Homo sapiens: one gene and its partner. The protein of the gene in region 1 interacts with the protein of each later gene in a biochemical or structural test. Each region holds a gene or a part of one and is shown on either strand. Other genes may lie near its edges.

The links. The genes of interacting proteins can lie anywhere in the genome.
Region 2: the proteins of PIAS3 (region 1) and SMAD4 form a complex in vitro, tested with the Homo sapiens proteins (one study listed by BioGRID).

Annotation. Positions count from the first base shown.
Region 1 is NC_000001.11:145,849,058-145,856,094, forward strand, and holds part of PIAS3 (E3 SUMO-protein ligase PIAS3), read right to left. Parts: coding exon 7,011-7,037; intron 6,770-7,010; coding exon 6,679-6,769; intron 5,824-6,678; coding exon 5,689-5,823; intron 5,507-5,688; coding exon 5,401-5,506; intron 4,830-5,400; coding exon 4,756-4,829; intron 4,608-4,755; coding exon 4,447-4,607; intron 2,097-4,446; coding exon 1,963-2,096; intron 1,883-1,962; coding exon 1,714-1,882; intron 1,589-1,713; exon of another isoform or gene 1,530-1,588; coding exon 1,396-1,529; intron 1,213-1,395; coding exon 1,175-1,212; intron 656-1,174; coding exon 389-655; 3' UTR 1-388. UniProt on the Homo sapiens protein: Functions as an E3-type small ubiquitin-like modifier (SUMO) ligase, stabilizing the interaction between UBE2I and the substrate, and as a SUMO-tethering factor.
Region 2 is NC_000018.10:51,082,176-51,085,542, reverse strand, and holds the end of SMAD4 (mothers against decapentaplegic homolog 4), read right to left. Parts: 3' UTR 501-3,367; downstream 1-500. UniProt on the Homo sapiens protein: In muscle physiology, plays a central role in the balance between atrophy and hypertrophy. When recruited by MSTN, promotes atrophy response via phosphorylated SMAD2/4.

The DNA of each region.
Region 1 (7,037 bases):
ATAAGAAGAGAGAGCATTTGGGGTTCAAGAGAGGTGCCCCTTCCCCAAGAGGCTCTAGACATAGTCAAGGCTGAGGGTTCAGCCCTTCTCCTAGCTCACATACCATCCCATTTGCCTCCCACTGCCTAGGTTAACATACCCAAAGGAATGTGCCACCATCTAAAGAACATTTCCAGAAACAGACCCCAGTGTCCTTAAAAAGAGGTTAAATATTAACCCTTTGGGTGCTGGCCTTGTCAGGCAGAGATGAGGCCAAAAGTAGGCATCTGTGAAGGTCTGTCTGGCCCTTGGCCAGAGCCCCCAGAGGGATCAGAGTAGCTGGGGTTGGGACTCCACAGCATACTTGCTCAGTGTTGGGGGACAGCGAAGTTTCCATAATCCAGGGAACTCAGTCCAGGGAAATGATGTCTGACCGACAGCCAGTCAAAGAGGGACCTGAGGGCAGGGGTCCTCCATGCCCCTCCCTCAAGGCCCCCCCAGGGGCCACAATGCTGCTGACACGGCCAGGAGGGGGCGCCGGAGTGGCGCTGCAGTGGGAGCTCCCCAGCGTGGGGGCCAGTGGGCCCAGAAAGTGAGAAGGGGTCCCTCGGTACTGGAAGAAGTGGCCAAGGGCATCCTGTTCATCTAGTGAGGTGATGACAGAGGGGCCATAGTGCTAGGAAGAATCAAGGGCATAGTTTAAGATCTCAATCCCGACTTCCCCACCTCCCAGTCACTCATCTCAGAAATGCCGTATGAGAGCAATCAACCCCTGTGGATCCGAAGGTATTCTCTTGAGAAGCAGGAGAGCCTCTCCCTCTTTCCCCTACTTCCCTACACCCTTCCCCTTTCCCTGCCTTGAGAGAGCTCCTCCAACTTGTTAGGTTCTTGGCTTTGTGGGCGTCTGAAATGTGTGGAATGTCCGGTTAGAGCAGGCATGGTGCTCTAAGTGCACACGGGGGTAGGGGTGAGTAGGCCAGGGCAGAAAAGTAACAGGGGATCTAGGAAGGAGGCCTAAGTAGGAATCTCAGGAACTACCAGTGGGGCTGAGGAGATAATAAGATACCTACACCCCACTGCCCTCACGGGAAAGCAGATTTACATCCCCAGAGATCATAAGAGAGGGAGGGGCCCCATCAGTGTCTAGAAAGGAAGCTTCAGAGATCTGAGACCTTCTGAAGAAAGAACCACTTACCTGACTCTCTGTCTGAAGAAATGAAAATAAATCTAAACCTGGCAGGAAAAGAAAAATCAAAATTAACCTCCTATCTGACCCCTTTACCACCAAAAGACAAAGCACTGTGGACTGTGGCCCCTTGCAGGAGAAGCAGGAGGCTTTGAGAAGGAACAGGGGTTCTGATGTAGCTCTGGGGAGGGTGTGGCAGTGCAGGGTCCATCTTATGACCCATGTCATACCTTGGATGTCGGCTCCCAGTGGGAAGGCAGGTGGGTACTCATGTAGTGGGAGACTGGACAGGAAATCCCCACCCAACGTGCCCATAGCAGGGCTCCTTAGCACCGAGGATGGCTGGTGGCCAGATGTCAGGACTCTGTGGGTAGAGAGGAGCTGAGGCAGCCAGCAAACCACAGATGCCCTCACCCAGCTCAGGTCCCCAGGTTCCCTCTCTGTCCCCTCCACATTTCTCTTGCCCCAGGCTTTGTCCAATGATCAGAAAGCAATCCTGACTTCTTCCCCTGTCCGTTTTGCTGTAGACTCAGCCTATTTTCTCATACCCTTTGCTTCCAGGTAGGGCCGGGATGGCAGCTGAGGTGACAGAACAGTGCTTCTTGGTAGGGGGCAGATCCTCCTCATCTGATGAGCTTTCTATTGTCAAGTCAATAACTTCGACCTTCTTCTTATTCTCTGATGGATCTCCCCCCTGGACTGGGCTGTACTGGAGGCCTGTGGGTATTAAGAAGACTACGTCTCAGAGAAGAGGCCATCCAAGATTTAGCTTAGCTGGGGAACAGGGGGTCACTCACCATCCAGCCCATACCCTGGCGGGGGGCAAACCTCAGATGCCTCCTTCTTGGGTTTCATTGGGCACCAGGATCCATCTTCCATGAATTGGATCTCATCACAATCTGAACAGGAACTAAGAATCTCCATAAATAAACTGGGGGAAGAGAGAGATGAAAATTCACGGGGCTGGGAGATGAGCAGAACAGTAGCCAGAGTTCTGTAACTCACCTTCCTGTATCTCAGTTTCCTCATCTGTAAAATAAGAACATTATCCATCCTACTGGACCGCTCTGAGTTGTTGGAATCAAATAACACAAGGTATGTAAAAGAGCTTTGCAAAGTAAGTAATAGGTTTTAAAATAAATACAATCTGAGGCTGGGTGCAGTGGCTCACGCCTTTAATCCCAGCACTTTGGGAGGTACAGGCAGGTGAATCACTTGAGGCTGGGAGTTCAAGACCAGCCTGGCCAACATGGTGAAACCTCATCTCTACTAAAAATACAAAAATTAGCCAGGTGTGGTGGCACATGCCTATAATCCCAGCTACTTAGGAGGCTGAGGCACGAGAATCGCTTGAACCCAGGAGGCAGAGGTTGCAGTGAGCCTAGACCACACCACTGTTCTCCACCCTGGGAAACAGAGCAAGGCTCTGCCTCAAAAAAAAAAAAAAAAAAAAAGCCGGCGTGGTGGCTCACGCCTATAATCACACTTTCAGAGACTGAGGTGGGTGGATCACCTGAGGTCAGGAGTTCGAGACCAGCCTGGCCAACATGGTGAAACCCCATCTCTACCAAAAATACAAAATTAGCCGGATGTGGCGGCACATGCCTGTAATCCCAGCTACTCAGGAGGCTGAGGCAGGAGAATTGCTTGAACCCAGGAGGCAGAGGTTGCATGAGCTGAGATCACGAGACTGTGCCATACCACTCCAGCCTGGGTGACAGAGTGAAACACCGTCTCAAAAAAAAAAAAAAAAAAAATCTGAGCACTTACGTGTAGTATAAGGAACAAAAGGAGCAGAGACACAGAAGTCCATAAACCATCTCCAAAAGGCACTGGGTCTTTGGCTTTCTAAACACTTGTGTAAAAATAAATAAATAAAGGCACTAGGGGCCAGGCATGGTAGCTCATGCCTGCAATCCTAGCACTTTGGGAGGCCAAGGTGGGAGGATCACTTGAGGCCAGGAGGTCGAGGCTGCAGTGAGCTATGATTGTGCTACTATACTCCAGTCTGGGCAACAGAACGAGACCCTGTCTCAAAAACAAACAAACAAACAAAAAGTGGGGGAGCACTGGGAACAGGAACCATAATGTAGATTCCAAAAAGAGGTTAAGACTAGCAAGATCAAAAGATTAGAACATCCAGGCCCTGAAAAGAACCTTATTGCAATGCTCAGTGGGAAGTCAGGTAGTTGTTATAGGTGATATATTATGACAGTTCAGTACACTGGCTCTGCCACTTAACAATATAACCTTGAGCAAGGCTCAATCTCTCTCGGCCTCAGTTTCCTCATGTGTAATGATACTACCTATCTCATAGGGTTTTTTTTTTTCTTTTTTTTTTTCTGGGTGAGTGTCACTAGCCAATCATAGGATTATTTCTTTTTTTGAGACAGGGTCTCAATCTGTTGCCCAGGCTGGGGTGCAGTAATGCAATCATAGCTCACTGCAGCCTCAAACTCCTGGGTTCAAGCCATCCTCCTGCCTCAGCCTCCTGAGCAGCTAAGACTACAGTCATGAGCTATTATAACATGCCTGGCTAATTTTTTTAATTTTTTATAGAGAGAGGGTCTACTATGTTGCCCAGGCTGGTCTCAAACTCCTAGCCTCAAATGATCTTCCCATCTCAGCCTTCCAGTGTTGGAATTACAGGTAGGAGCCGAGTCCATAGGGTTATTGTGAGGATTCAATGAGATAACTCATGCAAAGTGCTCAGCAAGATGCCTTGTATATACTAAGTCCTTAATGTTGCCCTCCCCCTCCACACACATGCACATACACACACACACACACAGACTGGTAAAAGGGATAGATAAGGTGAGAATTGCAGTTCATGTGAGGGGAAGTAAGCCATATGAATTAAAAACCCTGAAGGAGGTGGTGGCTAAAAGAAAAAAGAAATATTATAGGCTGGGCATGTTGTCTCATGCCTGTAATCCCAGCACTTTAGGAGGCTGAAGTGGGCAGATCACCTGAGGTCAGGAGTTCAAGACCAGCCTGGCCAACATGGTGAAACCCAGTCTTTACTAAAAATACAAAAATTAGCCAGGCATGGTGGTGGGTGCCTGTAATCCCAGCTACTCAGGAGGCTGAGGCAGGAGTATCGCCTGAACCCGGGAGGTGGAGGTTGCAGTGAGCCAAGATTGTGCCACTGCACTCCAGCCTGGGGAACAGAGTAAGATTCCATCTCAAAAAAAAAAAAAAGAAAAGAAAAAGAAAAAGAAATAACCAAGAAAAGAGGTTCTAGTGGATGTCCTAGGTAAGAGGAAGCAAAATGGCCCTACCCATCAATGATAAGAGATTCATAGGGAGCCTTCTTGTCACACACAGGACATGTCCATGTAGGCTTCTTCTCATTCATCTGTAGATAAAGGGCAGCATCGAAGCTCTGCAGGTGGGCGCAGGTGAGGGCACGACAAGGGACAGTCAGGCGCATCTTCCCTAGCTGAGGAGAAGCAAGTTCTCTTGTCAGAGGCCCTACTCTGATTTCATCCCAGAAAACTTCACGCCAGTATCCCTAGGAACCCTCATCAAAGTCCACAGGCTAAACCCAACTCCCTTCCCACCCTGTTCCCTTCTCCCCTTTTACCCACCGGGCACATGAGTGACACCCGGAGACTTGTAGTGGCCACCTCACTGTCAGGGTCAGCAGTCAATTTCTCCTTGACTGAAACAAAAGTGAGGCCAGAGCCATGGGGTCAGCAAGGCTGGAGGAAGCCCAGGAGTTGGTAAGGCCAGGAACAGATGGCTCTGGCTGAGAGGCTGCTGGGTGGAGCGTCTTTGGGGGCCAGTGGGACGTCACATGGAAGTGGTCTGGGATATGGATGATGAAGGCTGGGTGTGGGGGATTTTCCCATCCCTGAAGATGCTTAAACATAGCGTGACACTCTGGCTATGTTAGAGATGATCTGGAGGAGTTGAAGCATCATGTGAGGGTTAGATTAGAGGACCCCTAAGATTCTTTCCAGTCCGGAGAGCCCATATTCTAGCAGGGCTGGAGTTAGGGACTGTGAGGTGCAAAGCAGATACATGATTGGAAATTCAAGGGTGCCTGGGAGTGGTCCAACTTCAACTATAAAGACTGGAAGACTGGTCAGGGGTAGAGGGGGAGGGTTGGGGTTCATGTGAGAAGGGGAGTAAGTTGTCAAAAAAGAGGTATGGGTTTAATTATGAAGGCTGGAGGGCCAGGAAGACTTGAATCCAGATCAGGTGGGGAAGAGAGGAAAGATGTTACTCACTCAGTGCCCGCGAGTGGTCTGGGTTCCGGATACCCTTTGCTCTGAGTTTTTGTAGAAGGGTTCCTGCAGTCAACTGCCTCACCAGGTACACAGACAAGGAGTAATTCTACTTGGAGGCAGGGGGTAGACAATTAGCCTCTGCTTCTCATACCACCACTGCCCACTTTTGTTCCATGAGGACCAGAGACAGACTCATAAAGAGGAAAATGCTTCCCCAACCCAGGACACTGGATGGTTCCCCTTCACCCTCAGCAGGCTTTTCCAGGCACCTGCTTTAGCTGTGCTCACCCGTCCGAACTCAGATGACCAATTGACCACAATGGTGTTGGGAACAGTGGCTGAGAGTCGAGCCAGGGGTGTGATGTTGATGGGGCGGCTGGGCCTCTTGGGCTCGGCCCCATTCTTGGTTGGGGGAAGGTAACCCTGGAGAAGGGAGGGATTGGTCAGTGGAGAAGTGGCTCTGGGAAGGGGCTCTGCTCTTTGAACAAAAGATATCTTGTCTCGGGTTATTCAATCCCTGGAGGGAAGGCCAACTCGCTCACTCACTGACCAAGGGGATGGAGGCCCATTCAGTGGCTCACAAAACTGGAGCACTGTCTAGGGTTATGTGTGGGGTTCACTCCTGGGGAGAAAGGAGAGCTTATTTATTGACTGAGAAAAAAGGAACTCACTGAGTCCCTGAGGAGGAGGAATAAGGATGCCTCACCTTTTCTAACTCTCAGCTCTGGGGTCAAGTCTTTCTGGCCGGGTGTACTGGCTCATGCCTGTAATCCCAGCACTTTAGGAAGCCGAGGTGGGTGGATCACCTGAGGTCAGGAGTTCGAGACCAGCCTAGCTAACATGGTAAAACTCCGTCTCTACTAAAAATACAAAAATTAGCCGGGCAGGGTGGTGGGCACCTGTAATCCCAGCTACTTGGGAGGCTGAGGCAAGAGAATTGCTTGAACTAGGGAGGCAGAGGTTGCAGTGAGCAGAGATTGCACCATTGCACTCCAGCCTGAGTGACAGAGCGAGTGACTCTGTCTCAAAAAAAAAAAACAAAAAAGAAGTCTTTCTTACATCTCGGGTTGAACTAATGTCCTCCTCCGAGTTCTCACAAAACCTTTGTTCAGCCCTATCTTAATACTCTCGAGATTCTATTGATTCAGTCAGTAAACTGAGCACCTACTATGTGCCACGCACTGTGCTAGGCATGTCTCTTTCAGAATAGGTTTGTAGTTAATATTTATGAACTGAAACGGTAAGGGATTACTGACAGAAGAAGGGGAGAGCATTTACCGGCAGGGGGCACAGTTTCCCATTGACCTTGACAAAGAGGTTGGGGGGAAAATAATCTTCCTGGGGGCAGCTGGTCTCACAGAGACAGAACCTGGTAAGAGATGAGAAAGGAAGAAAGAGTGGGAAGAAATTTCTTAACTTGAATCTGGCAGAGAGACAGGGAACCCCAGAAAATCAGTCATAGATGCCTGAAGCCCTCAGCATCCAACAAGAGTCGCAGGGCTGCAGTAGGCAGTGGCAGAGCAGGGACATCTCGTAAGGGTATCTGTCATACCCCTACTTCACTCCTACCCCCAGTGGGTACCCAGGATAGGCAGGGAGGATGAACTCACCTTAGCTGCACCTGTATGGTATAATCA
Region 2 (3,367 bases), on another chromosome or scaffold:
CAGGTGAGAAGAAATCTCTCAGCCCGATAAACTCTCTGAAACTCATGTCAGCAAGCTTAGAAATAAAATGCTGATGTGGTCTTGTTATATACAAGCCATTGCCACGGAATCTACTTACCTGACCACCACTCCCCTCCCATTGACCCCTATTTCACAGAGAAGGCAGATGGGAGAGAAACAGCTTTCCTTATCCCTTAGCTGGGCAATGAAAGGGTCTCCAATTTCCAATTTTACCTCTCCTTTAAGCATCCTGGTTCTTATAATTCCCTAGCACCCATCTCTCTGATCACCATCACTTCACCTTCTCCTTTTAAAAATGAGAGAAGAATGGGGACTGTTATTCCAGGGTCATATTTTAAATGTCACATTTCCCATTTCAGTGGCCACAAGGCAATAAAGGAAAATGTTGACCTAAAGTTTGAAAATTCTCTAAGTGATCAGAAACCCTTTCCAGATCCAAGACATCCACAAGCTTAAGAAAAAGAATGAGCACATAATGATTTAGTTGGCTTTCTCTTTTAATCAAAAACATACTTTGTTACAGAGTTCTCAAGAAAGGTTCGACTATTTTTTAGCCACAGACTTTAACCAGGCAAAAGTATACAGAAAGCCACAAAGGAACTCCTGGGACTTTCAACTGACCAGTTGTCCCCAAAGCAGAAGCTACGAGTGGCTCTTCTCTGGCTTCTGGCATAGCTGCATTCCTCTGAATTTAGGGGAGGAAACAGTTGGGAAATACCACCACCAAATCTGTCCCCAACCCCCAACTCACTTCTTCTAAACTGGGCTCTGCAGCCCACCAGGTTTTCATCATCTATAAGCATTCACACTTTTCCCTTAAATCACATGTCCAATGCATTGAACAGAACTCAATACTTGAAGAAAGTTTGCCAACTCCATGTTTAGTCTTAATCAATCCAAGCCCGTGAGTCCTTCTATCAATGACAAGCAGCCTTTGCAACAGCAGCTGGTTTCATCCCTTCCTCTCCAGCTACCACAAAGCTGGCCTCTACCAGGACTCCCCAACCCCCCACCCTCAACCCAGCCCCAAGGAAGGCTCCCAGGTCCTTGAAAATATGAATTTCATTAATTGTACTCATCCAAGGGTAGGCTAGAAGAGAGCTCTGAATGATCCAGCCAAAAGTCACTTAATCAAAATGGACCTAAAAAGAGCCAAGAATAAAGTTAATAATCATCTACTGGTATTGTTTTCTTGAGTCATATAAACCAGTTTAATTGACACGGTTCAAGGGAATTTCCTTGTTTTGAGCATAATATCACTAAGCATTAACAACAGGTTTTCAATCCATTTTCACTGAAAAAAAAAATTACAAGCACACACCACTTAGGAGGGTGGTGTCACACACACCAACTCAAAAGCTATAATGTCATGACTCGAAAGCCTTAATAAACTCTGACCAGAGTGTGTGCGTGCGTGTGTGTGTGCACGCAATTCAAAAGCTAGAATGTCATGACTCGAAAGCCTTAAACTCTGACCTGTGTGTGTGTGTGTGTGTGTGTGTGTGTGTGCGCGCGCGCGTGCGCACGCGCGTTAAGTGTTTATTGCAGCCCCTAAGGTGGTGCTAGGCCTTTGGTTAAAATTAAGTCTTAAGGGCATACTATGTAACCTTTTGTCCATAAAAGAACAGTAATAAAATATCAAGCCTAGTCTCCTTTGAATAACATGGAAATAAGTAAAAAGCCCCCTCAAACAGCAGAACAAAGATAAGGAAGAAATCCAAAACTGCTGCAAGGTAGCCAAGGTCACTTAGAATTTCAGAGCTGGAATAATTAATCTACTCCAACTCCCTCATTTTACAGATGAGGCAACTAAGGCCCAGAGAAGATAAATGACTTGCCCAAAGGTCACACATCAAATTTGTGGCAGAGGGCAAACTAGAGAGTGCAACTGTCTGGCCCAACCCAGAGCCATTACTTTCAGGTTGAACAAGAACACTGGCTCTGGACCTATTGAGAAAGCATTTAAATAAACGGTGTGAAAAGTATCCACATCAACAGAGAGAAATGATTGTCTTCACCAAAGGTTTTCCTTAGTCCTTACTACATTAGAAAAAAAAAAACAGAAAAAAAAAGGACAAAAAGTTTCATTCATTCATTCCAGTCTGATGTTAAAATCCCTGAAAACACTAGCAATTACTTTAGCTACTCCTTGGGGCAGGATGTCAGACCCTCAATTCTCATAAAGGCACCTATAGGTCAAAAATATCTGTACAGGAGTAAGGCCAGAAGGCAGGGCTTCAAAGGGGACACCAAAACAAAACAAATGGCCTTAGTTTCCCAAGGTTTGTTTTGCTTTGTTGTGTGTTGTTTGCTGGTGTCCTCCAGACAACGGTATTGCCTCTGGCTACTGATGCTAATTTAGTAACCCTTGTAACCCCAGTTTTTGTAAGAGCAGCATTCAAGTGGAAGCAATGAAACCTTTCAAAATATTATTCTAAGGGGGAAAATATGAATATGACTCACTTCTCTCTATCTCAACTACCTGAAACTCAGCAAGAATCAGGAAGCACTCTAAGCTACATCAAACTGATATCAAATGCCAATACAATGAGGTCTTTTTCAGCACTTCACAGGAAAGTGTCTTGGGTCCTGTCCCAGAGTTTGTACTTGTGTTTTAAAGAACGTTCTAGTAAGTTTGGTTATCTGGTTTCCTTGCCTAGGCAGTCAGAAATGAAGAATCAGAAAGAGAAGAAGAAAATGCTAAAAGGAGGCACACTAACACTCACATATGAATGGTAATTATCAGAGAGGGAAGAGACCAGGAGGGGAAGTGGGTTAAAAAAAAAAAACTAAAAATTCAAAACCATAGCTGTCTCAGACCATTTAGTAAAGGCAACACAGTCCTGTCTGTTTTAGAAGCCCCTGAAGTCCACAAAGATAGCCAAGCACAGAAAGAAATGTTACCATCTAGTATATCCTCTGATATACATATTAAATAACTCCACCAAAAAAAGGCTAAAAATTAAAACGTTTTACTTCTTAAATAAGGCAATTCTGGATGATGTGGAAAATTTCACTCCACAGTGATTCCAGATAAACAAGATAAGCAACCTAGCAGCACTGGGACAACTGCTAGGGATAAGGCTGGGCCTAGGATGCCACTTTGTGGATGAATAAGGCCATGGACTTTTTACATACTTCTTGGTATGTTCAAAGAAATTACTTAGTTATCAGGGAAAAAAATGGAAAGGCTTGAACAAGATTGTCATAGCCTATTCTCTGTAGTCTTTGCAAAAGAGGATATGAGATTATTTAGATAGCTATCTGCAACAAGATGGATTCTGCCTTTACGGGAAAAAAAAATGCATTACTTTAAGCTGAGTGTACCCCACCTACAAAATAATTG